Linked DNA regions of Homo sapiens. The main gene of each other region encodes a partner of the protein of the gene in region 4 in a complex. Each region holds a gene or a part of one and is shown on either strand. Other genes may lie near its edges.

Region 1 (7,753 bases), on a different chromosome or scaffold from region 4:
TCCCTCAATCCGAAATCTCGGCACTCTTTACTGTTATCCCACGATAACAACAATGGCTAAGTTCTGAGCACTCACTGTGGGTTAAGCACAGTTCCAAGCATTCTGTATGCATTAAGATAATCCTCCAAGACAATCCTCCAAGGCAAGTATGCAATTTTAAATGATGAGGAAATGGAAGCTTAGAAAGGATACATCACCTACCCAAGGTAAGCGGCAAAGATAAATTTTAACTACCTACTACATCAGTGATGATGCATTCTTTTCTTAACAAATATGTATTACAGAATTCTGTATGTCAGGTGTGTGAGACACAATATTGAATCCAAAAGAGATGGCTTCTGCCCTCCCTAAACTTAAAATCTAGTGGTGAATAGAGAAAATTGGTATTTTCACTACATTGTTACAAGTGCTCACGAATGAGTAATAAAAGATGACATAGAAGCACATTAGAAGGCCCTCCTTCCACTTCGTATCCTCCTTCCCTTTGCTTAATTTCTCCCCATAGTACGTTATCACCTGATACTATATACGTTTTTCTTATTTAACTTGCCCATTGACTATCTCCCCCCGGCATGAGAATGAAGACTCAAAGCAGGGCATTTTTGGCTGTTTTGGTCCTTCCTGGCCTGTAACAGTGCCTGGCACATGGTAAGCACCAATAAATACTTGAATTACTTTTTGGTTGTGGGTATGATGGAATTTAATTTTGTTTTGAGACAGTTTCGCTCGTTGCCCAGGCTGGAGTGCAAAAGTGCAATCTCAGCTCACGGCAACCTCCGCCTCCCGGGTTCAAGCGATTCTCCTGCCTCAGCCTCCCGAGTAGCTGGAGTTACAGGCATGCGCCACCATCCCGGCTAATTTTGTATTTTTAGTAGAGACAGGGTTTTTCCATGTTGGTCTGGCTGGTCTCAAACTCCCGACCTCAGATGATCTGCCTGCCTCGGCCACCCAAAGTGCCGGGATTACAGGCGTGAGCCACCAGGCCGGCCAGAATTTAAGCCTTAAAGTGATTGCTTTTATTTATTCATATAGCTTCTAATCCTTGACATACTCTTTGAACAAGGATTTACAAAAGTGCTAACAATAACATCAGTAGCTAACACTTATTAAGTCCCTAACTGTTCCTAGGCATTATTTTACGTGCTTTACATAAATTACCCCCGTTAATCCTCACAACAGTCAGAAGAGGCAGCAGAGTGAAGTCAGCCAGTGTATTTGGGTTCAAATTTAGAAGGCTTTTATTTAGTAGCTTTGCAATCTTGAGCAAGTTACTGAAACCACAGGATGCTCATCTTTAAAGGACAGTAATAACAGAACCTACCCCATAGAACTGTTTCATGCGTCATAAGCATTTAATAACCATCATTATCACTACCCTTTTACAGATAAGGAACCTGAGGCTCAAAAAATTTGCTGAGGGTCCCAGCTCACATGGCTAATCTGTGGAGGAGTCAGAATTCGAACTCAGTTGTAACTTCTTCACTTCACTTCAGTTTTAATAGCCTGGCCATTACATTCATCTGCAAGCTGTGCTGATGGTGCAGGCTGATATATTTTAGTTAGGGTTCAGAAGTACTACCACTCCTCCACTTTCCTGGTTTCCAAACAGTTGCAGAACGTTGGATCACGGGCACTCAATTTTCTCCCTTTTGTGTGCCTCAAAATTCTCAAATCATTTTGGGGAGAGACTTGGGACTTGCTGTGTGAGTGGGCATATTAGTGTCTTAGTGAGCATCAGTCTCCTTATCTGTAAAATGGAATGTTATGGGGTTAAATTAAGGGAGATCCAGGACGCAAACGACACACCTTTCAACCCGACTTCTCTGGCCTACTTCTCCTGTTCCCCAGATCCCGCAGGGCACACTGGTGACATCACAAGCTCCTCGGGTCCAAACCCTCTCACGCCCTCATTCAAGGCCTTTCCACTTCTTCCCTCCCTCTTACTCTTTCCTAATCAGCATCAGTGCCAGGGGGAAAGGCCTCTGTAGAAAGCCTTGACTTTCCAGTCTGGTTTCAATGTCTCTCCACCGTGCTCCCTGACACTCATCACACTGAGCATTAACTGTAGATTTACCCATCTGTCTCCTCCACAAGACCACGACCTCCTTAAGGGCAGGGACCAGGCTTTATCCACTTTGCCATCGCGTCTGGTGCTGTATAAATATTTGTAGAGACTAAAACCTCCTAGGCTAGTGCTGGCACACGGAACACTCAGCAAACACGAGATCCCTTCAGATTTTCTTAAAAAGAGACATAGGGAGAAAGAATCAACAGTTCATGTGTGCACAGTCTAACCAATGTATTCTTCCCTTGTCACTGAACGCCAGAAAAAGCCCCTGGCCATCCATCAGGAAAGTACTTACTGAAGCCAAATTGGGAGCTTAAGAAAAGAACAAAGCCATAAATCGCTCTTTCTGGCAATGGCGACGGTGAATTTTCCACCATTTTTCCTGGGGCTTTAGACAATCTGTGGAAAAGGAACACAATCAGCGTCAGCGATGTGCTCCGTGGCACCATTGATCCATTCTCGCCTCCTCGCTCCGCCGCGGGTACGGCCCCCGCCGCGCAGAACCGCCTCCCGCGCCTCCGTCCGCAACCCGCGCCCCCGCCTCGAGCGCATACAGACACCCAGGCTGGCGCGCGCCCCGCAACAGAAGGGGTGGCGGAGGATAGGGCAGGGAGGGGGGTTCTGGGGCGATAGACGCGCGCTCCAGCTCTGCAAGCGTGGCCTCCCTGTGGGAGGGGAGGGCAGGGAACAAGGCTCGCGCGGCGCCCACCAGCATGCGGGCCTACTAGGTCGCGGCGCCCAGGCCCCGGGCCCTGCCCATTCGTGGAGACTTCTATTTCTCATTCGAGGCGGGGTATGGGGGGGCCCTCGACCTCGGGTCCTTCATACGCCCACCCAGGCCCCTCCCGACACCTCGGCCACCTCAGCGCTGAGTTCTCCGCGCAAGCGCCGACTGGGGAGCCGCAGTGGGGAAGAGGAAAACCTGAGGGAAAGGCCTAGGCGCGACGGCAACCCCCACCCTGGCGCAGGCGCACAACGACCCTCCCCGGGTGGGAGCCAGCGAGCGCGGGGGCGGGCGTGATCCCGCGGCTCGCGACGGCGAAGGAGGGGGCGGTGGGGTGCGACTGCGCACGCGCGCTGCCAGCCCACGTGACGCACCTCGCTTCAACGCCGCCACCCGCTCCCTCCCGCCGTCGGCTGACGTGGAGGGCCGGAGGTGGCGGCGGCGGCGGCGGCGGCTGCTGCTGCTGCTGCCCGCGTCCGAGGCTCGCGGGCGGCGGGCCCGGGTGAGTGCACACCCGGCGCGCTGCCGGGCTCCCGGATGTGTCACCTTGTCCCGCTGCAGCCGAGATGCCGGGGGAGCGGGGCCTTCCACACCCCCTCCGTGGGTGTGTGGTGAGTGTGGGTGTGTGCGCGTCTCCTCGCGTCCCTCGCTGAGGTGCCTACTGTGTCTGCATGGGTTGGGTCCCGCGCGATGAGGGGGTGTGGCCGCCATTGCCTACCCCAGTGGGTTTGCCCCCTTGGTCTGGTGCCCCTTCGCGAGCGAGGCCCTGGGATGCCGGTGCGAGGGTGTGAGTAGTCCCTTTGTGCGCAACCCCCCGCTGCCCGTGCCTCGGCCGGTGCGTGGCTGACACCTCCGCTGGGTGGAGGCGCTCGCGTGTCGCCTCGTCGCCCCTTTTGTGTCGGTGTCCGCGCTCCCTGGCGGCTGCGTGGGCGCTCTCGGCCTTGCAGGTGGCCCCCCTTTGTGTTACTGCCCCTGTCTGTGGGCTGCGCGTCCCCTAGCGCGCGTGGCCGCGCCTTCTGCAATTGCGACCCCCGCCTAGAGCCTTGCTCGCGCAAGTGTGCGTCCTTGCGTGTCTCCGAGTGACGCAGAGTGTCTGCGCATGGGTCCTGTTGAGTGCGTGATCTCTTGTGTGCGGATTTAATTCTGTCGAGTGGGTATCTCTTGTGTGCAGGTTTCGTTGGTGAGCGTGAACGTTCGTGCACACCCCTTGCTGTGTGTGCGTGTCACGACTCTGTTGCCACCTGTTTTCGTGTGAACTGGCAGTCCAGTCCAGGGCCTGTCCCCACGGAACGGACCCAGGAGGGGGGTAACCTCGCCGCTCCCCTCGCCCCCGCGCCTCTTTCTGAGCATTCTCTCCCACAGACGCTAATGGGAAGGGGGGTGGACAGGATCGAGTCTGGCCAGCTGCTCCGCAGTGTTGACGCTGCCAGTGTGGCCTCTTCAGCCAGCCTGTTCAGGAGACAGAATAGGGGGATCAAAGATAAAAAATGAAGCCGAGACGTAGGTGAATTTGGGCTGGTACCAGTGCGCCGTGCCTTTTCCAGTGGCGCCCTGGACGCCAAAACCCCCTCAGTTGCAGAGACCTTTCAAAATATATGCACTCTCCTACTGGGCGATGCGGTCCTTAGGCGTTCTTGATGATATTTAATGGTTTATAGAGTATTTTATGGCATTCACCTAAATCTCTTTCCATTTTGCCCAAGATCCTGGCGAGGGAAACAAGGTAGAAATTTTACAGATTTTACTCCTCCGGAGAGAGCCTTTTCCTTATAACTACGACTCTAGTTAGGACATTTTTTGTTGCAAGAAATTTGCGATTTATCCTAAGGAAAATGGGATATAGTATAAGGATACCTAGGGTAAGAAACTTCAAACCCCTTAGAGACCCAGCTACTGCTCCGATTGCTCAAGGTTTCGTGCTCTGCGCTCAAGGGCTGCGTTTTGGTGTCTTTGTTCTGCCCAATTTTCTTATTGTCTAATTTTCCTTTTTTTCTTTTAATTTTTGGAATATTTCAGATATCAAATACAGAGGGGGAGCTAACCAATCCATGATTCAGATTTTACAGACGTGATTATTTAATCTTTTGCCAAATTTACTTCAGATACTCTTTTTTTTTAAAGAAATAAAATTGCTCTCAGTTCCTTCCCCTCCTTTTCTAGAGATAGCCACTGCGTTGAGGTTTGTGTATATCTTTACTTTGCATATTTTATACTTTGATCAAGGTGAATCCATACACAATATATATTATTGTTTGTTTTTAAACTTTAATGGCATTAAAATATACATGCCTTTTTGCAACTTGCTTTTTTTTTTTTTGCTCAGCATCATATTTTGAGGTTTATATATGAACAAATTGAATGATTGTGTTATCTTTGGTTCATTCATTTTAATTGCTGGTATAGAATTGCGTTGTATGAATATACCATATTTATTTATACATTCCCCTGTTGATAGACTTTGAACTTGTTTCAGTTTTTGACTCTTAAAAACAGTCCTGCAATAAATATCTTTGTACTTGTCTGCTTGTGCACACATTTGGAAGTTTCTGTAGGAAGTACACCTAAGTAGTAGATTTGCCGGATTGTAGGCTATGTGCGTCTTCAATTTAACCAAGTATCACAGAAGCTCTCGAAGTGGTTGTACCAATTTTCACTGTCACTGGTGTTGAGTGAGAACACAATTTCCTCACAACCCTGCTAACACTTTATGTTATGAGACTTTACATTTTTGCCATCTCTTTACTGACCAGCTTCCTTATGACTTTTGGTTGCTGCTAAATTTGCTTGTAGCCACCTTGGCTTCTCTTGTAGCCCTGTGTCAGCCTATGGATTTATCTCTTATAGCTAATTGGCTTAGTCTTTATCTCCTTTGGTTCTCATAAGATTAATTCCAATGAACATTTGTTGTATACCTAATGTATGTCAGATCCTATGATTGATGTATAGATAGAATTTCCATGATATGTTAAATATGTACCTCTTTAGTGGCAGGTGAGGTGATTTAATTAAAAGTATTTTTTTTCTTATGATGAATGTTTAAAAAATTTTTCTTTTCCTCTCCATTTTATTGTAGTATTTGATAAATTCAAAATATATGTAAAACATATGCAAGCTGTATAGCAGAACAATAAAATGAACACCTATGAATTCACCACTCAATCCAATAATCAAAATGACCAGTATTGAATGTGCTTACTTCCAGAGGTGACTACCATCCTGAATTGTGTATATTATGCCTTGTTTTTAAAAATAATTTTATCAGATATGTATACATCCCTCAAAAATGTATTGTATGGTTTCTGTTGTTTTTGAGTGGAAAAAATCATATTGGGTATAGTTTCCTGGGACTTGCTTATTTCACTTGATGTTATGTTTCTGAGTTACTAATATTGGGTATAGATGTAAGTCATTAATTTTCACTGCTGTGTAATATTCCAAGTGTGAATATAACACAGTGTATGCATTCTTCTGTTAATGGGCATTTTGGTTGTTTCTAGGTTTTGCTGTTATGAAGTTATATACTTTTTGGTTCACAGTTGTAAGAATTTTTCTAATTTTCACACTGGGGTATATGAGCCCCAGAGGAGTAATGAAGATTTGCTAAGGAATGTGTGGGTACAAATGATGTTAATGAATCAGTTTCTAGATCATTACATTCCATAGGTACTCTTTCCTAAAAATGGTAATGCCTGAGGCCTCCTGCTAGTGCTACTTTCTTACCTTGTGTTTCTAACATTGCACTTTACATAAGACAGGCAAACCACAGGTTCTTGTGGAATCTTACTATGGCATTGCCCAAAGGGGGAAAACTCCCTTGGGGAAAACAAAGGGATTTTTTTTTTTTTTTTTTTTTTTTTTGAGTGAAGTTTTGCTCTTTTTGCCCAGGCTGGAGTGCAATGGCACGATCTCGGCTCACTGCAACCTCTGCCTCCCAAGTTCAAGTGATTCTCTTGCCTCAGCCTCTGAGTAGCTGGGATTACAGGCGCGCACCACCACACCCGGCTAATTTTGTATTTTTAGTAGAGACGGGATTTCACCATGTTGGCTAGGCACGTCTTGAACTCCTGACCTCAGGTGATCTGCCCGACTCGGCCTCCCAAAGTGCTGGGATTACAGGCCACCGCGCCTGGCCTACAAAGGGATAATTTAAAATACCACTATAGTGTTAGGGAAAGCCTCTTTTAATCCTGGCACTTCCCCATCCATTTCCTTAAGAGAGATATTTCCAATAAAGTTGCTTTTTTTTTTATGTTATCAGGGTATATTTTTTGGCCAACCATATGCTGGTAATAATTATACATTTAAAAGAATGAGATAATCAGTTTTACTTTAAAATGTTACTGTGATGTTCTAGAAATTCACCCTTTGCAATTATTTAATCTTATGGTGATATTTTTTAAATGTCATCTTAATGGGTAAAGGGTATGCAATTTTAAAAAGCACTTTTGGTGGTTTGCGAGCAAAAAAAAAAGGTTGAAATACCACCATGTTAATTTGTTCAGCAGCAAAAGAAAAAGAAAAGAGAAAGAAATACTGCCGTATCACTATAGTAAGCTGTTTGCTAGAAATGGGATTGCTAGATCAAGGGGTATGAATGATCAGCTTTACAAAATAATGTCAGATTACTTTCTGAAGGGGTTGTATCAGTTTGTACTTTGGCCAGCAGTTTTGTCTGTTTATATACTTTGATCAACAGTGTGTAAGAGTTACAGTTGATCTACAACCTCTCCAACACTTGTTATTGTCAGACTTAATATTTGCCAATGGAATGGGTATGAAATGATGCATCATTGTGGTTTTAATTTGCATTTTTTGTTATTAATGAGATTGAGCATCTTTTGTATGTTTATGAACTGTCTTTGTTTCCTTTTTATGAAATATCTAGTCATATATTTTACCCTTTGTTCTGATGAGTTGTCTTTTAAAACTGGTAACATCGATTATGTGCGTTGTAAATATCT
Region 2 (6,591 bases), on a different chromosome or scaffold from region 4:
TCCTCAGTAACTTACACAACACAAGGCTTGTACGTGTAAAGCATCAATTTTAATAAAAAGGCCATTTTCCTGTTTACAAATGGCACTTTAACATTAAATTATCAAAGTTTATTAATATTATTACATACAGACTAGTTTTGGAGAAGATAAAGTTTGATATGTGTAACAAAAGTTAGAAATAATGTTCGCTGTATGAGTTTTAACCCAACTGCTTTATAAGGCTGTTTCTATTAGATCAGTGTTTGGTGATACTAATCTTGAGGTGGAGAACATTAGCAGCAATAAGAATTTAAGTGTAATATAAATAGCAGACTTGGTTTATAAATTAAATTTCTTTTGTAGCATGAGTTTTCACTCCTTTCTTCCCCTCTCATTTAAAAAATCAGGGTGCGTCTTTTGGGAGCTTTAGAACACAAGGATGTTAGAAATGTCTTAGTTCAAGGACATATTTTTCTGAATACCTCCCTTACTGAAGCATTCTGCATGGCGATCGTGGAAGCAGCCAGTTGTGGTTTACAGGTAAAAAGCTTTGAGGGCATTCATGGTTGGGATTTCTGTGTATTTTGAAAAATAATGAGACACATTCCATAATAATGTTTTAACTGGTTTTGTTGATCTTCCTGAGGTATGATTATGGTGGAGTATGTGTTCTTTCTTTCTTTTTAAGGTTGTAAGTACCAGAGTTGGTGGAATTCCTGAGGTGCTTCCAGAAAACCTTATTATTTTATGTGAGCCTTCAGTAAAATCTTTGTGTGAAGGATTGGAAAAGGCTATTTTCCAACTGAAGTCAGGGACATTGCCAGCTCCAGAAAACATCCATAACATAGTAAAGACTTTCTACACCTGGAGGAATGTTGCAGAAAGAACTGAAAAGGTATGTCACATGCTGAGAAAAGATTGTGTCTGAACTCTTACTTGATGTTTCACGTACACATTTGCTTTTTCTTACATAGATGTTTACCATTTTTGTTCTATTGCTTAAGTTGATGAAATCTCTTCCAGGTGAAAAGAAACAGATTTTGGTACACACACCGGGCTAAGTGTCTGGTCAAATTATTGCGTTTGACATTTGAAAATAGCAGTAATACAGTCTAGCCCCCTCATTAAACTGGGCATAAAGAAGTTACAAAATTTTCTAAAAGTCACAATGAGTAGAGACAAGACGAGTATTAAATCTACTCTTAGATATTTTCTTGAAGCTGTTGATAATTCTAAAGCAAACATCTCTATTAGGAAATGCATGGTTTTGCTGATTGCAGCAACTTTATAACTTGTGAATATTTAATTCAGGCTACTTCCTAAACCTCTTGTAGCCCTTTTGCTAACTACTGTGATTTTCTCCAGGAAAAGGATTTTTGCATCTTTGGGCTGATTGAGAACATAGTAAGTTAGAATTCAAAATGTACGTGACAAACGTGGGAAAAATCACAAATAAAAAGCAGCAACAGAGAATTTCCAAAAGGACAGGTATAGGAAATAGATTAACACCCTTAGGTAGGAGATTACAGTTGTGGGAAATGCTTCCTGAATTTGAATTAGGGACTGCTTTCATTCTCAGTTTCATCCTTTACGTCCTTTTCATGATGTTCTCTGCCTCATGCCTCTTATTACCATGTAACAAGCTGAACAGAAACAACTCAGCTTCTTAGTATGTAGAAATTGTGAACCAGAAAGATAACCAGGTGGAACATGGAGAAGGTAGTAGTTTAGAGTAATGCTACCAACGTGATATTCAGTGGAGCAATGAGTTTTTAGCCTAGAGTAGATAGCAAGTTGGAGCTGAGGAGAATAGCTCTTTACTGTAAGGCTTTCTTACTTGGTTTGAATGATGAATTCCAGTATATAAGATGAACTCATATGTGAATGGAAGTTCTAAAAACTTATCTCTAAAAATTGTCTTATACATTTTCCATTGAAACATGAGATGTTTGCGACAGTCAAACATTTTTGACTGAAGCATTTTGAGACATTCTGACCTTCTACAAGTCTTGTACTATCTCTCCCATATGAAACATGGAAAGTTGGAGTCTAGTGCTTACCTGTTGGGAGTACATGTCAGAGTCCCCGGGCAGCCTTTTCAGACTCTCTCTACTCCATCTTGATGTCCCCCTGCCTCCCCAACCACTCCCTAGATTCCAGTGTTATCCTTTAGGAGCAGAGATAGAATTGGGGGTATAATTGGCAGGGATATTTGGTCAGACAGGTTATTTTGATGATACCATCCTGATCTCCACTCCCTTTGAGAACCATGGCACTGTTAAGTTGTGACTTGACCTTCTTCATTGACATCGTATAAACCCCAGAAGCCTGAGCCACTGTAGGTAATAAGTTAACAGGGAAAGAACTGTGGTGACGGTTTGTCAGCATATAGTAAAGGGGCTAATTGGGATTTTTTTGGTAACCACATTTTTCTTTTGGTTAAAGTAATAGTACAGCATCTGTATTTTTTTTAATTCTATGGTGATTTATAATACACTTTTAGAAAAAAGTAAATCCTTGCCTATAATGGATTGTCATCGCTAACATTCTCTTCATAATAGTAAATTGTTATTTTATCACTTAAAACTATAAGTAGATTAATTGACCTGAAATAAAGCTGGACAAAAAAGTCAGTTTGTAGTTACTCTTTTAACCCTATGACATTTTAATTCATTTCAACTCCTCCTTCTTAGTTTAACTGTGCTATTTAGGAAATCGATCATGAAATTAATTTGGAGTTCATGCTGTAAACATACTTCTTCAATTGCAATTCACCAGTCTCAGCATAATTCTCAACATAATTCTGATTAAAATGTTTGTATTCAGAATGTCCTCAGGGTAAAAGAGCTCGATGAAAACATGCCGTACCTTTCAAGGGCTGTTGACCTGTACAACATGCACTGCATGTTATAACTTCCTTGAGTTCAAAAGGAGACGGTTTAAAGGTCTAATATATGAGACTAAGCACAAGTAATACTCAAATTACAAAATATGAATGTTGGCCCATTTGATGTGTTCTGAACAAGTATGTTTAAAGATCTTCGTTTTTTGATATTTTAGAGCTTAGTACTTAGCAGTGTTTTAAAAAGCAAGCCACCTACTTGCTCAGCAAAAAACGTTATTTCATTTGCCAGCATTTGACCTATACTATCTACTGAAATTTCCCCCATCTCTTTATCTTCTTTTATTTGAAATCCATGAAATGCTTCTGCATGTCCTCACCATCCATGCTCAGCAACATGTACAGCCTCATGTGGCTGTTGAAAGAGGAGGCTCTGTGTTCCCAGAAGTATGCTAGATTGTAGCTCTCTGCTTGTGGTTGATGTCTGCCAGATGCCGGTGAGAGCATCTCAGCTTAGTCAAGGAATCTTCAAAGGCAAATCCTGCTTCAGTACTGCTGAAGTCACTGCTGAATTAAATATTGACCCTACAGTGGTGACCCCAAAAGCTGTTCAGACTTTGCGGGACTTTGGAATTCTAGTAGTTGGCTAAAATTGATGGTGACTCCCTAGGGGAGAGGAACTGTGGCTTATTCTTTGTATCACACAGCCTCTAGCCCGGTGTCTTGCCCAGAATAAGTACCCAATAAGTTTTGAATCAAATGGCAATAATTATCGTGATTAAGTTCATTAAGGATATCATTACTATGACAACAACAACAAAACACAAGCAACTTTTGTTTGTATTTGTTTATAAAATGTTCCTGCAGGATCGGGTCATTGTTTATCATGGGACAGGTGATGGGGTGATGGGTGAAAGTGCTCACACTTGGCTTCTCTCCCTCCAGGTATATGACCGGGTATCAGTGGAAGCTGTGTTGCCAATGGACAAACGACTGGACAGACTTATTTCTCACTGCGGCCCAGTAACAGGCTACATCTTTGCTTTGTTGGCAGTTTTCAACTTCCTCTTCCTCATTTTCTTGAGATGGATGACTCCAGATTCTATCATTGATGTTGCAATAGATGCCACTGGGCCACGGGGTGCCTGGACTAATAACTATTCTCACAGTAAAAGAGGGGGTGAGAATAATGAGATATCTGAAACCAGGTAGAAGGAAGCCTAGATTGTAAGATTTTAAACATTTGTAATAGTTCTATAAAGACTATGGAAAATAACCTTGCTTTTGGGGGGTTTTTGTTTTTTTAGAGTTAATTTAGTAAGTTATGCTACCTCTATATCATTCAATATTTTCTGTTGAGGAAAGATAAAAATGTATGCAATTCCTGAGTGTAGAAACTTCTTGCACTTATTTAAAATTTAGGAGAGAACATTTAAGCCACTCAGGTATGCAATTTTTCAGACTACTGAAATCCCTGTAGCAGAGATGTTTTAACATTATATTTTGAGAGCTTTGGGTGCTGAAGGGCCAAACGTTTTCTGGGCATTTTTTGGCCAGTTTTTAATGTAACACCATTAGACACTCACCAGATGTTTACAAGTTTTCTTTAGGGGAACTACAACAATTATATGAACTGTTTTATATCATGTTCATATACATTTATTAGGAATCTAAATCATGTCTTTGAACATTTATTAGGTTCACTCAGTAGGTGTTACATGTAATTAACAGGTTCCTTGAGTAAGATAGTCCATCAGTTACCAGCACATTTTGAACCCCTGCTCTGTGTAGAATGTTGAACTAGATGCTTCCCGCCATTAAGGACCAGGGGTGCATTCACTCTTTGTTTACCATTCAAATGGCTTACTTCATCATAATTGTGGTTGATATGAGATCAATATCCAACATGCCAAAAATGCTCATGCCAGTTAATGCCAGGAAAAAAATCACCGACACACTACTAGTACTTTGTTCCTGTTGTATGCATTCTCCTAGGTAGAGCCTCCATCTTCAGTTGTGTTTGTGAAGGTATTTTTTGCTTTTTAAATACTGGGGACCGATATCACTGTTGATAGTGCAGAGAAACCCTCCACATTTTTCAGTGCATAATTGAGTTTTCTATAAATGCCTTCGTGTTTTCTGAGCAGAATGTACGAGGTGTGCCATCCCAAAACCAGCTGCTACCCTGTCCTTTTAATGTAAGTCACTCCCCTTCACTGTGGCCTCGCTGATGTCTGATAAGTATTGTCAGTGTGCAAAAGGCTTTACTTCAGAATGGTTTATTTATAGCAAACTAAGTTGAAAATTTTAGAAACAGTCTTTGTGGGTGGATGTTATTAACTGTCATTGTTGTTGCCCAGAGCCATGGGTTTTTTAACCCCAAATTATCCACATGGTGTGTATTATGAATTCTTTGAACTCTTAAGGTTTTTGTGAGAAAAGGACTGTGAATTCAAAACAATAAGGCACTTGTGGGTGCACTACATAGATTCTGACAGTGTTGTGATTCTGTATAGGATTTTTAAAAATGACAACATTCACAAAATTTATTACTTTTTAAAAAATAACATGCCTATTAACTGGTTGCACTGATATAAAAGAAATATATTTGTGTTTTGTTTGTACTAAAATGCAAAAGCAAGAGTGCAATTTTTAAAATCTAGAAGTTAGGGGTTTTGTTGGAGAAAAATGGACTGATCTTTAAACTATTCAGTCTTACTGGGATTTTTATGCATAGAAACTCACATATAAACATGAAATAAACAGTGCCAGTATTCATAGGAAAGTGAGAAACTGTAATATTTGGCCATTATTCTATTCAACAGGTTTTAGAGGCATGCCACCATTTTTTCCTTATATTTTTGCTTAATTTTTTTAAATTGTCATTTAATTCTTAAACTGTCATTTATTTGAGATGGAAATAAGATCTAAAGTTAGTTGCCTTTGCCTGTAAAACATGTGATTTGCAAATTATTATTTTTCTTTTTTTTAACAAATGGAAGTAAATTTGTTTCACGTAAATCTTAATTTTCAACCTTTCTGGATACCTTAATTGTAACTGTCAGTTTGCACTGGTCGGTATATGGAAACACATTGCTCTACCCTGCTACTTAGTTGATTTTAAAGTGAATTTACAGTGATGAGAAATTTGTGAAAAATATATTGTATTTCTTTTGATGTTTCAAAAGGTTGCCTATGAAAAACTGATTTGTTAAAACATGCTACATGTCCAAAAATAAAGACCAGAATGACATTTTGATAATTTTCTGAGTTTGTCTTATTTTATGAACAGACTATTATTTACTAGTGGAACAGGCTATCCCTGCCCCCGACACATTCTTTTTCAGTGCAATTTGGATGTGTTGCTTGGTCTATTAGTAAAACAAGAAATACCCTTTGGGCGATGAATTACTCTGTCATTTTTTGTTTCTAGAATATCTTCTCTCTCTCACTCATGGAATAGCGAGTTCAATTGTGCCTTTGTTTCCTTACCCAAATAAGCCCTTGTTTTTCATTGCCCTAGCATTATCACGTGAGACAAGGAAAATATCTACAAACTATACTGTGTATGTGAGCTACATAATTATGCTTTCTACTTTGCCCAACACAAATTTGTAAACTTTCTTAAAACATTATGAGACTTGTGATTTTCTTTCTTTCTTTCTTTCTTTTTTTTTTAGCTCATCAGCTATTAGGGTATTTTCATTTATTTATTTATATATTTTTGAGACGGAGTTTCGCTCTTGTTGCCCAGGCTGGAGTGCAGTGGC
Region 3 (7,023 bases), on a different chromosome or scaffold from region 4:
GGGAGACAGGTGGGGGCCAGACCACCCAAGACGGTGCGTGGCCACACAGTCACCAAGAACATGCTCTGCATGGCAGCATCCAGCGGCTGCGGCAAGTGTGAGCAGCAGACGGGCCCGGGCAACTCTAGTCTCCGAGCCCGGGCACCTCTAGTCTCCGGGCCCGGGGCACCTCAAGTCTCCGGGCCCGGGGCACCTCTAGTCTCCGGGCCCGGGGCACCTCTAGTCTCCGGGCCCGGGGCACCTCAAGTCTCCGGGCCCGGGGCACCTCTAGTCTCCGGGCCCGGGGCACCTCAAGTCTCCGGGCCCGGGGCACCTCTAGTCTCCGGGCCCGGGGCACCTCTAGTCTCCGGGCCCGGGGCACCTCTAGTCTCCGGGCCCGGGGCACCTCTAGTCTCCGGGCCCGGGGCACCTCAAGTCTCCGGGCCCGGGGCACCTCTAGTCTCCGGGCCCGGGGCACCTCTAGTCTCCGGGCCCGGGGCACCTCTAGTCTCCGGGCCCGGGGCACCTCTAGTCTCCGGGCCCGGGGCATCTCTAGTCTCTGGGCCCGGGGCACCTCTAGGGCCTGTGCCTGCACCACCTTCGGGGCTGTGTGTCTGTCTCTTCTCTGTGGCCCAGGGAAGCTCTGCGCTGCTTCAGAGCCCCACGTGCAGCCCACACCGCAGACTTATCTATTCCCAGGGCCTGTGCGCGGCCTCAGCTGCAGGACGGGAGCAGGCTGCCCCCTTGTGGTGCCCAAGCACCGCGCTGGCCCAGCGGGCACAGGCCGGAGGCAGTCAGCCCCTCCAGCCACGAACCCTGCCCCATACCTGGTCCAGGTCATAGGAACAGGAGTCCACGCGCTGGCGCAGAACGTTCCACTTCTTCCCCCGGAACAGACGCCACAGTGAGGACAGGCCATGGATCTTCAGGCAGTACAGCCTACAGGACGCAGTGCTGTCGGGCCCGGCCCCGCCCCGCCCCGCCCCGCCCCCGCCCCACTCGAACGCCCGCCCAGCCGGAGCCTCTGCACCTCCCAGGGGGCGGTGGGGAGGGGGAAGCCCACGCCCACCTGGCTCCATAGACGTAAAAGCAGTAGATGTGGAAGGTGAGGAGGGCGATAATGTCCGAGAGGAGGGACAGGGCCACCGTCAGGCCCAGGCAGGCCGAGAGGCCCACGTGCCAAAGGATGTGCTCCACGAAGGGGGACATGAGGTGGATGTAGCCTGGCAGGGTGGGGTAGGCCCTCAGGAGGCGCTCAGACCCCAGCCCTCGGCCCAGCACAACCCTCACACACACAGGACATGAGGTGCGTGTAGCCTGGCAGGGTGGGGTCAGCCCTCGGGAGGTGCCCAGGCCCCAGCCCTCAGCTGAGCACAGCAGGCCTCACACACACAGGACGCTGGGGAGCAGAGTTGGGGGCACAGGGGGCGGGGTCTGGCTGGGTCCCTACCCTCTTCAGCAAGCTCTGGGGTCCCTGGGGCCCCCGCCTGCCCTGCACTCACTGATCCACAGGTGGATGTGGTAGAGGAAGAAGCGGCCCAGCACCTGGTCCAGTGCACGGTTCATCTTGAGCCCGGCGGGAGCACCCATCAGCCACTGCAGCAGATGCTGGAGCTCCTCGGCCACGTGCTGCAGGGACACAGGGGCCACGCTGGGGCGGGGGCAGCCAGGCTCAGCACCTGCATCTCCCCAGGCTCTTTCGTGATGGGCTCCCACCTTGGCCAGCCTTCCCTCCTCCAGGGTCTACCGCGTCCTAGCGTGGACAGCACACGGGCTCCCCTTCACAGATGGCTCCGGGATTGGGGTCTGAGGAGGCTGGTCTGGAGGCCTCTCTCTGCAGGCCTGGGTGACATGGCCGGGCCCACAGGGCATCCGCGTGGCCCCCTGCCTGCACCCACCTCTACCATCTTCCTCCCCTCTCACTACCTCGGCCACAGGACCCACTGGAGCCCTCGGCCCCAAACACGTGGACGCACTGAGGCCTGGCAGACCCTGATTCGGCTCCAGCCCTGCAGGGAAGCCCACAGCTGACACAGTCCCCTCCAGAGGCCCCACCCCATCGCAGAGGCTGGGGGCTGCCCGGGATGACCACAGGTGAGCGAGACAGTGCCAAGCCCATCAGGGCCACAGCGACCAGGCAGGAGGACAGGTCCCCAGAGGGAGGATGGCGTCAAGTTGAGGGCACAGGCACCCCCAAGAGCAAACAGGGAAGCAGGGTCTTGGCCGCCCAGGAAGAAACTCAGCATCCAGAGGCTGTGCCCCAGCGGGCAGACCCCAAGGGAGCCTCAGCCTCCCCACTAAGGAGACAGTGAGTGACACCTTGGCCCCCACTTGCCCATTGCGCAGGCCCCTTCCAAGCCTGGGCCAAGGCCTCAGCCACAGCAGGACTGGCAAGAAGGAGAAAAGAACACTTTTTTTTTTTTTTTTTTCTGAGACGGAGTCTTGTTTTGTCGCCCAGGCTGGAGTGCAGTGGTGAGATCTCGGCTCACTGCAAGCTCTGCCTCCCGGGTTCACGCCATTCTCTTGCCTCAGCCTCCCAATTAGCTGGGACTACAGGTGCCCACCACCATACCTGGCTAATTTTTTGTATTTTTAGTAGAGACGGGATTTCACTGTGTTAGCCAGGATGGTCTCGATCTCCTGACCTCATGATCCGCCCGCCTTGGCCTCCCAAAGTGCTGGGATTACAGGCATGAGCCACCACCCCCGGCTGAGAAAAGAACATTCTTTATAAATAGAGCTTATTTAATATTTAAAGGATAAGAGCTTGGCAGCAGGAAGAGACTTTCATTTTTAAATTAAATATTTATATTTCTGAGCACTTTTGCAAAAGGGAGGTCTAGGACAAAGTAGGCCGGTGGCAGGTGCGGACGACCACAGGCAAAGCTGCCGAGCCCCTTCCCCAGCCCCGCCCCTCCTTCCTTCTGGGCTGGAGCTCCCTGCACCCCCACAGCCACACAGACGTGCCTGATGCTGCCCCCAGAGGCCTGGCCTGGCCACAAGCAGGCCCAGTGCACACCTGCAGCCCACACAAGACCCACCCAGTCAGGCCTCAAGGAGGCCTCCACAGAGGCCCGAGGGTGGGCCAAAGAGTCAGGTACCACCCCCAGCAGGAAGACAAGCTCCTAATGGAAGAGACGGGGCTTTGGTGCTGAGGGAGGAAGACAGAGAAGCTGAAGGCCCAGAGGCAGCATGGAAATGCACTAGATCTGCAGAGGAGGGGGCTGCACCCGGCTGGAAACGGGGCACAGACCATGCAGGGAAGGTGGGAGATGGGAGACAAGCTGTGCCTCTGGCTCTCAGCACAGGAGTTACAGAATCAGCACAGGGGCAGGGCAGGAAGTCCCAGCTGGGCTGCACATGGGCCTCCCTGGACAGGAAAGGTTTCATGACCCTGGCTCTGCAGAGGGCCCCAGAGAGCCAGGAGGGCAACGCTGATCTCAGGGACCACAAGGGAGATACCAGGACGCTGGGCCCACAGGGAGAGGCGGGCTCCCCAGAGCCTCAGCCCGGCTGGCTCCTGCACACAGCCCCTTCAGAAGGAAAGGGGGGTGTACCTGCGAGGCCTGCCCTGCCCAGGCCCCAGCGCCCCTGGAGTTCCTGCTTCTGGTTCAGGGGAGGGCCGTGTCTCCAGAGCATGGAGAAGGTAGAACTGGCTTTGTGGGGCGGTGGCTCTGGCCCGGGAAGGCTCTGCTGCCCAGGAGGGGTCCCCACGCCCACCCGGGACACCGGGCTCCACCCCAGTCCACTCACGTCAGCCACAGGAACGAGGGCGTCGGCCAGATGCCCGATGCGGCTTCTCCCGTGGAGCCAGGACAGCAGCATGAGGCCCAGGGCCACGTCCAGCAGCACAGAGGCCACCGTGTTGGCCTTCCTGGAAGGGAGGTCCGGCCCGGCCGGCATGAGGGTGGCCAGCACAGCCTGGGGCCGCAGGAGGAGGCCTGCCTGGCCGGAGGGGTCAGCGTGGTGCAGAGGGGGATGGAGAAGGGGCCAGAGGGCACGCACCCAGCCCTGCAGAGACCAGGGCAGGCCCACACCTCATCAGCTGGGCAGGGTTCTCCGCCTTCCGTGTACTGAAGATTAGCGTGAGGTGCTCCAGCCGGTGCCGGAGCTGTTCGCACGTGGAGAGTTTGCTCCCGAGGAAGGACAGGGGCCAGAGCTTGAACACTCTGCGTGGGAGTGGAGAGGAGTGATGTGTCCCTCTCCAGATCCTCCTCCCACCGTCCCCCACTGTGCAGGGGACCACAAACACCCAGGCCACACTCCTGAGCTCAGCAGGACAGGGGGCAGGTGGGAGGGGCCCTCGGTGGCCCAGGTGGTGGTAGGCAGCGCTCAACGCGCCCACCTCACAGTGCACGTGACTAACACGGAGCCTGGCCTCCTCGCAGGTGCTGACCCCGGGCCACCTGGTCACCACATGCTCCCAGAGCCGGTGCCAAGAAGCGCCTGCCAGCCAGCAGCAACTCCCACGGGCCCAGGGCCTCGCCCCGCCGACAGGGCCCAGAAAGCTGCCCGGGGTCTCCTGGGCTGGCCTAGCTTCTCACCCCAGGCTTCCAGAGTATGCACCCCCGGGTCTAAGGCAGGGGGCAACTGCAGGTGACCCCTAGCTGCTCCCCATGGGGCACCTCCGCCAGGCAGATGAGGTCCCCTGTGGAAGGGGGCCCTCTGTTCTCAGCCACAGCTCGGGGCTACCCCCGTGCCCCTCAGGGCCCTTGGGCTTCAACTGACCCTTGGCCAGCAGCACCTGTGATTGTGGAGAGAAGCAGGGCCTGTAGACCACTCCCCCAGGCACACGGGGCCAGCAAGTGGATGACACCCCCACAGCCCATGAGCGCTGCAGTGTCCAGAGGCCTGCTGGGGGCACAGGCAGGGCTACAGGGAGGCCAGCGGGCCTGTGTGCCCTCAGGAGCACCCCCAGGCAGCAGTAGTCATGTCTGTGCTCACCTTCTGATTTCTCTTTCAGGGACCTAAGCCACTGAGGTTCACCCTCTACACCTTCTGGGAGGGCCCCTGGCAATCCCTGAGGCTGCCCAGAGACCTGGCTCTACCCCAGGGGTGAGGGACACCCTCTGAGAGGCGAGGGTTGGGAGAGCAGGATGGGGCCAAAGCCCGGGCTGCAGGAGTGGGAGGGGGCCCGGGCCCAGGAAGAGCGCATCTGGGCCTCTGTGCCCACTGCAGACAAAGGGATGGGCCAGCACTCATGGGACCCCACTCTTTGCCACCTGCCTGTCCCGGGACACCTACCGGCAGGCACTGACAGCTGAGACCAGCGACAGCAGGCTGGCCAACAGCAGGCAAATGGGTCCCGAGGCTCGCCTGGCCAGCTCCGCGAGGATGCTGGCCTCCACGCCCTCCGACTGCCAGTGGCTCAGCCGCACGGGGCCCTCATCAAAGCGGTCACTGCGGAAGAGCACCTCACTGCGTGCTACCGTGTCGAAGACGGCAGCCAGGCCCCCCGTGCTGGCAGTGGTGGCTCCAGCCTGGCGGTCGGGCAGGACGGTGGGCAGGTGTAGCTGTGACAGCAACACCTGGCGCTGGTCATAGAAGATGAGCATGACCTGGTCCTCACCAGGGGCACCGGGGGCAGTGGGCGCTTGCCGGTGGGTGGCCTCGCAGCTCCAGAACGTGCCGCCTCTCTCCCGGCACAGCCGCAGCCAGGGCTCATGGGGGAAGACAGCACCCAGGCTCTCCAGGAAGCGGCCCAGGCTCTCCTCGGGCTCCTGCCGGCAGTGGCACCAGGTGCCCAGCACGGCCACGCCCACCTGGCTGGCCTGCCGCACCTGGGCCAGGAGCTGCTTGACCTGGATGGGGATGAAGGGAAAGTGCAGGACCGCCAGGACCACGGCGCTGCTCTGCTCCGGCACCCACCGTCCCACCAGCAGCCCGCTGTCCGTCGAGACGCAGCACGTGGGGAAGAAGGCCTTGAGCACCATGCCGGGAGGCTGGAAGAGAAGAGGAGAGGCTCGGCTCAGAGCTGCTGCTGCCCCCCCACCGTGGGCTGCGGGATGTTGCACAGACGGCCTGACAGGTGCAGCCACAGGGCCCCAGGTCGGGGCACCTCAGCTTCAAGTTCGGTGGTGGACGCCGTAGGGCTCCTTGGCTGCCGCCTCGCGTGGGCCATGCTTCTCCAAGGGGCAGCCAGAGTGCTGGCCCCAAGTCCACCCCAGGCCCAGCTCAGCCCCACCCGCACGAGGCAGGACGCACATGCAGCCACCAGGCCTGCCCTCCCATTTCCAGGCCGGCCCAGGGCACGGCCTCCTCGGCACCACCTGACGCGGCTGTGGGGCCGAACCGAACTCCAGGCTTCTTAGTTTTAAGAAACCTGATTAGAGAGGTGTGCTTAAAGGTGTAGCACGAGGAGAACTGTACAATCTCATTAGCAAGGTCACGCCAATTGAAACCTTGACAAACCATGATTCACGTATTAAGCAAGAATAAAGATGAAAATGTAAAATGATGTGCTGCTGGGCTGTGGAAACTACCTCGTGCGCACGGCGGGCAGCCCCCCAGAAGGTCCCTGCCTCCCACAAGCCCCTCCCTGGGGGCAGGAAGGACCTGCCTCGTTGCTCAGGGCACACAGGGCTTCGGCCTCCACTCTGACCCCCGCCCACGGTGGCACCCGGCAGTGCCTGGCCCTCCCTGACATCCCCACAGCCACCCCAGGGCAGGGCTCCCTCAGGGAGCATTTTCTCTCCAGGATATATTTCTCCAACGACATGGGTGCCTAGAAACGGGGAGAGAGAGGCTTACAGGTCCCGGAGGTGTGGAGAAACTGCATCCTGCACTCTCAGGCTGAGGGACACCAGCCTTCCAAGGTGGCTGTTGAGTAGGAAGCCACCTGAGCTACCGCGGTTCCCAGGCCCTGGGCCTCTCCTCCCCCTTTCTCACAGGCCCCTGCGGAGCCATGCAGCCAGCTGGGGCTCCTTCTCCACTGATGCCTTCCCTGGCGGGGCCCCACAGGGCAGGAGGACTCCCTAGCGGTGGGGGCACTACTGGCCGGCTGGCTGGGCCGCTCGCCTTCCTCAGACACAGAAAGCCCCATCT
Region 4 (6,895 bases):
TTGCCCGGCATGAGGGAGGGGAGCTTATGGAAGAGCACTCCCAAACTGTTGTGGATCAGCGGGTACATCCCCATAACTGCAGCAGCCACAGAACCAAAAGAGCAAGTTGGGCTGTGCGTGGTAGCTCACGCCTGTAATCCCAGGACTTTGGGAGGCTGAGGCGGGAGGATCACTTGAGCCCAGGAGTTCAAGACCAGCCTGGGCAACATAGTGAGACCCTGACTTTACAAAAAAAATTTTAGAAATTAGCCAGGTGTGGTGGTGCATGTGTGTGCCTATGGTCCCAGCTACTCAGGAAGCTGAGGTGGGAGGATTGTTTGAGCTCAGAAGGTGAAGGCTGCAGTCAGCTATGATGGAGCCACTGCACTCCAGCCTGGGAGATAGAGCAAGATCCTGTCTCAAAAAAAAAAAAAAGAAAGAAAGAGAGAAAGTGAGAGAGAGTAAGAAAGAAAGAAAGAAAAGAAAGAAAGACAGGACATACTTCCATAATTTCAAGCTACTTGTGCCCATGCTGGGATATTCTGGTCCTTTTGCAGGCACTAGTCCTCAGCCCTTCAGACAGAATTTGTGATTATCCTTCAGATGGCCAAAACAAGGCTGGTAACATTCATGTCTAGAGTTATTTCAAAACTCCTTTGATGTTTGAAACTAGCATTACTACTTTACTATTGAGGATAATTTTTTAATATGTTTATTGACCAACTGTATTTTCTTTTTTGCGAATTTTTCTTTTCAAATATTTTGTCCATTTATCTATTGGAAACTTGATTTTAATAAACTCATCATTAAAATTTATTAATAGGACTTTTATGATTTTTGTTTTTAAAATAAATGTTGGGCTGGGCACAGTGGCTTATGCCTGTAATCCTAGCACTTTGGGAGGCCAAGGTGGGTGGACTGCTTGAGCTCAGGAGTTCCAGACCAGCCTGGGCAACATGAAACACCATCTCTACAAAAAATACAAAAATTAGCTGGGTGTGGTGGCATGCACCTGTATTCCCAGCTACCTGGAGGCTGACATGCCAGGATTGCTTGAGTCTGGGAGGTCAAGGCTGCAGTGAGTCACGACTGCACCACTGTACTCCAGCCTGGATGACACAGAGAGAATCTGTCTCAAGAAAATAAAATAAAAATAAAAAATAAGTGTTGTCAAACTAAGAAACAATTGGCAAAATGAAAGTAAGTCTTTGTAATCACAGAAAGAAAAGATCAAGCAGAGATAAATGTTAGTTCAAATACTAAATGATGCCATCTAGTGGAAAATTTATTTTGACTCATTTCTTTGGATTGCAGGTTCACAAATTTCAATGCCCCCAAATTTGGAATTGACAGGCTCTGTTAAAATACATAGTCCAGCCCCTCTTCTGCCTAGAGATTTCTAACTTCATGTGTGTGATAATCCAAGAATTGTGTTTCAATAGTATCCATATTGGAAATTAGAAAAATTCCATTTCAGTTAAAAAGAGTGTCCCAGAAGTACCTTGTGCTTTCCCTTTCCATCAGAATGTTTACTAGTTTCACCATAATAAATAATTTTATTGCTAAACATTCTTTAAATGTGTTAGCCCCTGTGCTGTTTTACTTGAATTGTTTTATTTAGTCTGTTCAAACACTGTAAGTTACATACTATTATTATTGTATTTCACAAGTGAGAAGGTTGAGGGTGAGAACTTAAGTAGCTTCTCCAAGATCACACAGCTATATTGTATCTGAGCCCAGAAACCATCAGGTTATTGTGCACAGGCCTATGTGACACGAAAGGTCAGTCATGTGAATAGTGAAAAGGGACTAACTTTTAAAAGACCAGTTCCAGTCCCATGATCCTATCCTATCATCTACATTTAGCTTAGTATACTACAGGCAGAAATGAATTGTATTTCTTCATTACTAAGGGCTATTTAGGGACATATTGCTTTGATATGTTGCAACTTAATACACACATGGTGATAGTCATACATTCATATGTTCCTTAAATATTGGTTGTTGATTTCTGGTGTTATAAATTTGAGGATGTTTTCAATACTTTGCTGTTACTCTCTATTCTTCCCCTAAATAAAGTAAACTGAACTGCCTCAAACCCTCTATGTGGAGGCAAACTGAAACTAATTTATTTATAACTGGTTAGAAAACCCAGTTGATAGAGATCTGTCAGCCAAGCTAGCTGAGGCTTAAGCATGGGTGCCTTCCCCTACCCAACAAGCGCCAAGGGTTGGGCCCACTCAGCGCTTGCAGAAGTCAAGCGCTGTTTCTCCTTAAGCAGAAACTTATCTTTCCTACAGCTCACCCCTTCCCTTGAGCCCAAAGTATCAACTGACTTCAACTGAAAAATTAATTCCTGCTACTGCCCTAGTCGGAAATAGTGTGAAGGTGACATAGGAACTTTACAGTAGTTTCCCTTGAGGGTATGTCCCGATAACTGCCCTATTCTCTAGTCCGTTAGTAACTCTAATAACGGAAAGTTATGACTGTGAAAGATTGCTTTGTGAGGGAAGGAAGGTGAGGCAACCAGAGACTTTCATTATCTCTTAAATATCTATCCAGTAGAAGTGTTTCCTTTTTGGTATCCTATAAACTACATTAACCTTAGAAAATCTTCTGAGCATTAGTGAACAAAGAACATCAAAAAATAAACTGTTTTTTTTAAAAAAAACAGGATGGCCCAAAAAACAAACAAAAAATTAGGATGAACATATAAACATTTGTCAGTTTATTTTTACATTGGAGTGGAAGAGAAATTTGAAAATATAAACATATTTTTGGATTCTGTACTTCCAGCTCCAGGAACTCAAAGTGTGAAATGATAATGCCCAGTGATGCAAAAAAAAAGTTCAGGTTGATATTCAGCAGAACGGAGGGAAAAAATGGATGACTAATGAGAATCTTTGAGTCTTCGGACATGGAAAAACTAGATGAACTAAAAATAAAAATAGACAACATTAATGGAGCATTAATTTGTGCCAGGCACTTTTCTAAATGTTCTTCGAATGCACAATCACATTTATGCCCTACCTACAAGGTAGGTACAATTATTAGTCTTATACAGATAAGGAAAATGAGCAGTTAAGTCATTTGCCAAAGTCATCCAGCTACTAATTGTGGACAGGGAACCAAGCTGTCAGGCCCCAGAGCCCAAGTTCCCATCTACTACACTGTAAGAAAGAGATCTAACATGGTCACTTTCTTGGAGAGTGGGAAGCAAACCTGGGATACAAATTCACTGAATGGATCACCCACTCATTGAATGGATCTTTAACAGGCAGATCACATCTGCCTGTTACACAGCTATTTAGGCCCCTTGCGGCCTCCAAGCTCATTTATAGAAGTAAATTAGCTGTGCTTTATTACGCAAATACTTCACAATGACTGGGTCTCAGGCAGGAAGAATTTATATATTTTGGAGGGTCAGAGGCCTAGGCCCTTCCTTCCAGGTTCTCACTTTTTTTAATGAGAGAGAAAAAAGCCAAACAAGGTTACAGAAACTAATGGTATAGTAAAGATGTACATGAAACAAATGAGCGCTTTCAATACATCCATGACAATACATTCGGTACAATACATAACAGTGTGTTTGAAACTTCACTTGGAGGTAACCACGTAGGTCCAAGCCTAACTCCCTACAACTCTGAGGCCTGGCCACTGGCTTCCTAGCATCCTTGGACAGGCCCCGGTGAAAACCCAGACACCTTGACTTAAACACTGGTTTAGTTTGTAGTCTGGTAAGGCGGCGGGGCACTCACCAGAGGCCTCTGCCCTGGGGCTGTCCTCCGGACTATAGATGACGCCCGTGGGAAAAGCAGTCGGAGCAGAAGCACCCTCGGAACCAAAGCGCCCGCCCCGCCTACTCCTCGGCAGCGTTTCCTGGAGGACCAGGGGGCGGGGCCTGCCCGGCTGGCCTGGACGAACGGGAAGCCGGGAGCTCGGCCACGGGTGGCGAGGCTGCGGTGAGGCCTGGTCTCCGGCTGCCAGACCATGCTGAGTGGAGCACGCTGCAGGCTCGCCTCAGCGCTGCGGGGAACGCGCGCGCCGCCGTCCGCGGTCGCCCGTAGGTGCCTGCACGCGTCGGGGTCGCGGCCTTTGGCCGACCGGGGCAAGAAGACTGAGGAGCCGCCCCGCGACTTCGATCCGGCGCTGCTGGAGTTCCTGGTGTGCCCGCTCTCCAAGAAGCCGCTCAGGTAACTCGCTGGCCTTGGCCCTTCCTTTGCAGCCTCCCGGTGGGCGGAAAGGGAGCGGTGGACCGCGGCCTCTTGCAGCCACTGGGGCCTTGTAGGTCGGTCAGGTACTCTCCGCTGCCACATTCTGGACTCTGTCCTCGCCGGGCGCACAGCGGGCAGGACGGGGGAGACCGGAGGCCAGGGGAGCTGCGTCCCACATCTCCCAGAACGCAACGCCAGCCTGCGGGAATGGCTCGAAGCGTTTTAGGGTTCGCGACCGGCTGCGCATTGCAATCACCCGGGGACCGTTTTAAAAATGCCGATTCCCCGACAGCCCCCAAGACGGGCAGACTTGGAATGCTCGCGGGATGGGACCTGAACATTTGTATTTTCTTTTCCTTTTTTTTTTTCCTTTTAAGAGACAGGGTGCCCCCTACGTTGCCCAGACTGGCCTAGAACTCCCGCCTCAGCCTCCTCAGGAGTCGAGAGACAGGCGCCGCCCCCACGCCCAGCTTATCTGTGTTCTTAAACGGTCCCTAAATGATTTCTAATGTACCACCAGGTTTATGAACCACTGCGATTCAGGACAAGTCCGAAGCCTTCCGGTTTTTAAGCCAAGATAATGAAAAGTATTGTTGTACCCTCCAGATTCTTGTGAAAGTGTCTTGTACAACTGGTGCCTGACAATCTTAAGCAATTCAGCTGTGTTTGCTGCCCAGTGGCTCTTAGTTGTGGCCTAGCAGGTTTCGTAGAAGCCTCTTTAACTAGTTTTTGGGAAGACAGCTCTACAGTTTCCAAGCTACCAAAATTGAATATTGACAACACTAACGCTAGTATTACAAATCGCATAAACACCAAAATGTTATCAGTGGTTATCTTTGAATGGTAGATTGCTAGCAATTTTTCGTATTTCTTTTTCCCGTAATAAACATATTATTCAATTTTCTCGAACCTTGAAATTATCATTTGATTTACGTTTATAACTAGCTCACTGCAGACTTAGTGCTTTCGAAAGTTTCTTCATTTCTGCCCTCTCACCTTTTCCAGTGATTTCCTTCTAATGGATTAGTTAAGTTTCTCTACTTAGCATTTATTCTAAAATGAAGAAGTTGATTTTTCTCTAGTGTTTATTCCAGTAGTAAATTAACAGGGATGGTTTGGGGGTTGACCAAAGTAATGAAGGAATATTTGGATAAGAGAGGGGGATCTTTTCTGACTAGTATGAAAAAAAATTAAGGAATAACTTGTGAATAAGGTGAAAAAGAGAATATGAGAGAAACTACTAAAATGGGAATAATTATAGATTGTAAGAGAATTTTTCTAAGATAAAAGGTTGAATTGGCTATTGTTGCTTTTAGAATTAAAGAAGACTATTCTGGGATTAACTCCGTACCAAAAATTGGATAAATGGTGGTATTTGTTGAAAATCAGGCTCTTCAAGCATTTTATTTTCCCACAACTCATTTTGTTCTTTTTTTTTCCACCTCAGATATGAAGCATCAACAAACGAATTGATTAATGAAGAGTTGGGAATAGCTTATCCAATCATTGATGGGATCCCTAATATGATACCACAGGCAGCTAGGATGACACGTCAAAGTAAGAAGCAAGAAGAAGTGGAGCAGCGCTAGTTCATAATTTAAAAAAATTAAAAAAACGCAACAGCCAACTTTTCTTAATACCATATACCTTTTAAAACACAGTGGCAGGTAATAAGTGGAAGAGAAGAATGTTTCTGTCTCTTCCTACGTTGACTGTTCTTATTCCACTGGTTTCTTTAGCAGGACTGTTCTACTCAGCCTCTGTGGAAGAAAACTTCCCACAGGGCTGCACTAGCACAGCCAGCCTTTGCTTTTACAGCCTGCTCTTGCCTATTACCATACCAGTGTATGTATTCTTCCACCTTTGGACTTGGATGGGTATTAAACTCTTCAGGCATAATTGATGCAACTAGAGTCAATATGCTGTATATATTAATGATAGCTCTTGGGCATCGATCTCTGAAAGCTCAAATGGATGGAATTTAGTTTGCGGGAAAGAGGCTTTGCTTTGCGCATATCAGGCTTAGGACTGTGGGAGGCTTAAGTTGCAGATGCTTCTTTTATTGTACTCTTGTTCTGCCCTTGTTTTTTGAAGGCTCTGACTTATAACTGCTGTATCAGAAGAAACATTTTGACAGTGTCTTGGTTGGAGATGAACATCCCTAATTGACATGTGATGACTATTTCTTATTCCATTCATCTAAGAGTCATTGAAATTTTGTTTTGCTTGTTTGTTTAGCTTCAAGGTCTTTGGTAAAGTCACATGTTAAGGATGACTGAAATAATTCCAAAGGAGTGATGTTGGAATAGTCCCTCTAAGGGAGAGAAATGCATTTGAACGAATGTGATATAAAACCACATAATCAAATAGAAACTTCATGTACTTACAAAAACTGAGTTTGTAAAATTACCTTCATTTCTTTGACATTAAATGCTTATATTAGCAATAAACATGTTGACACTTTCCTATAAAAAATAAACCAGTTTGCAGTAGTCGTTTGTTTGTTTGGTCACAGAAGTGTTAATGATACTAAGGGAAGTTGTAAAACTGCACTAAATGTAGTTGTGTTTAGAGAGGTACTTAATACCCAAAACAGAATCATTTCCTGGGAAAGTGAGGGGTGGGAAGACTTGCAAGTAGTGGATTGTACCCTGTTGAGCTTAGAGCCATATTTGAGCCACATTTCAGTTTATTTTCCCAGG

What was found.
Region 1: PIGY (region 4) and PIGP share a complex: the UniProt entries of both Homo sapiens proteins name them as parts of the glycosylphosphatidylinositol-N-acetylglucosaminyltransferase (GPI-GnT) complex.
Region 2: PIGY (region 4) and PIGA share a complex: the UniProt entries of both Homo sapiens proteins name them as parts of the glycosylphosphatidylinositol-N-acetylglucosaminyltransferase (GPI-GnT) complex.
Region 3: PIGY (region 4) and PIGQ share a complex: the UniProt entries of both Homo sapiens proteins name them as parts of the glycosylphosphatidylinositol-N-acetylglucosaminyltransferase (GPI-GnT) complex.

Annotation. Positions count from the first base shown.
Region 1 is NC_000021.9:37,070,071-37,077,823, forward strand, and holds the start of PIGP (phosphatidylinositol N-acetylglucosaminyltransferase subunit P), read right to left. Parts: upstream 3,002-7,753; 5' UTR 2,930-3,001; exon of another isoform or gene 2,778-2,929; intron 2,734-2,777; exon of another isoform or gene 2,518-2,733; coding exon of another isoform or gene 2,446-2,517; coding exon 2,364-2,445; intron 2,241-2,363; exon of another isoform or gene 2,079-2,240; coding exon of another isoform or gene 2,075-2,078; intron 1-2,074. Other genes in the region: E3 ubiquitin-protein ligase TTC3, read left to right, coding at 3,359-3,413. UniProt on the Homo sapiens protein: Part of the glycosylphosphatidylinositol-N-acetylglucosaminyltransferase (GPI-GnT) complex that catalyzes the transfer of N-acetylglucosamine from UDP-N-acetylglucosamine to phosphatidylinositol and participates in the first step of GPI biosynthesis.
Region 2 is NC_000023.11:15,318,948-15,325,538, reverse strand, and holds the end of PIGA (phosphatidylinositol N-acetylglucosaminyltransferase subunit A), read left to right. Parts: intron 1-386; coding exon 387-519; intron 520-667; coding exon 668-874; intron 875-3,766; coding exon 3,767-4,033; 3' UTR 4,034-6,083; downstream 6,084-6,591. UniProt on the Homo sapiens protein: Catalytic subunit of the glycosylphosphatidylinositol-N-acetylglucosaminyltransferase (GPI-GnT) complex that catalyzes the transfer of N-acetylglucosamine from UDP-N-acetylglucosamine to phosphatidylinositol and participates in the first step of GPI biosynthesis.
Region 3 is NC_000016.10:572,964-579,986, reverse strand, and holds part of PIGQ (phosphatidylinositol N-acetylglucosaminyltransferase subunit Q), read right to left. Parts: intron 5,922-7,023; 5' UTR 5,913-5,921; coding exon 5,224-5,912; intron 4,149-5,223; coding exon 4,017-4,148; intron 3,854-4,016; coding exon 3,733-3,853; intron 1,609-3,732; coding exon 1,482-1,608; intron 1,203-1,481; coding exon 1,049-1,202; intron 919-1,048; coding exon 807-918; intron 1-806. UniProt on the Homo sapiens protein: Part of the glycosylphosphatidylinositol-N-acetylglucosaminyltransferase (GPI-GnT) complex that catalyzes the transfer of N-acetylglucosamine from UDP-N-acetylglucosamine to phosphatidylinositol and participates in the first step of GPI biosynthesis.
Region 4 is NC_000004.12:88,520,775-88,527,669, reverse strand, and holds PIGY (phosphatidylinositol N-acetylglucosaminyltransferase subunit Y), read left to right. Parts: upstream 1-3,893; 5' UTR 3,894-3,969; coding exon of another isoform or gene 3,970-4,172; intron 4,173-5,640; coding exon of another isoform or gene 5,641-5,782; 5' UTR 5,783-5,880; coding exon 5,881-6,096; 3' UTR 6,097-6,672; downstream 6,673-6,895. Other genes in the region: PYURF (protein preY, mitochondrial precursor), read left to right, coding at 3,970-4,172, 5,641-5,782. UniProt on the Homo sapiens protein: Part of the glycosylphosphatidylinositol-N-acetylglucosaminyltransferase (GPI-GnT) complex that catalyzes the transfer of N-acetylglucosamine from UDP-N-acetylglucosamine to phosphatidylinositol and participates in the first step of GPI biosynthesis.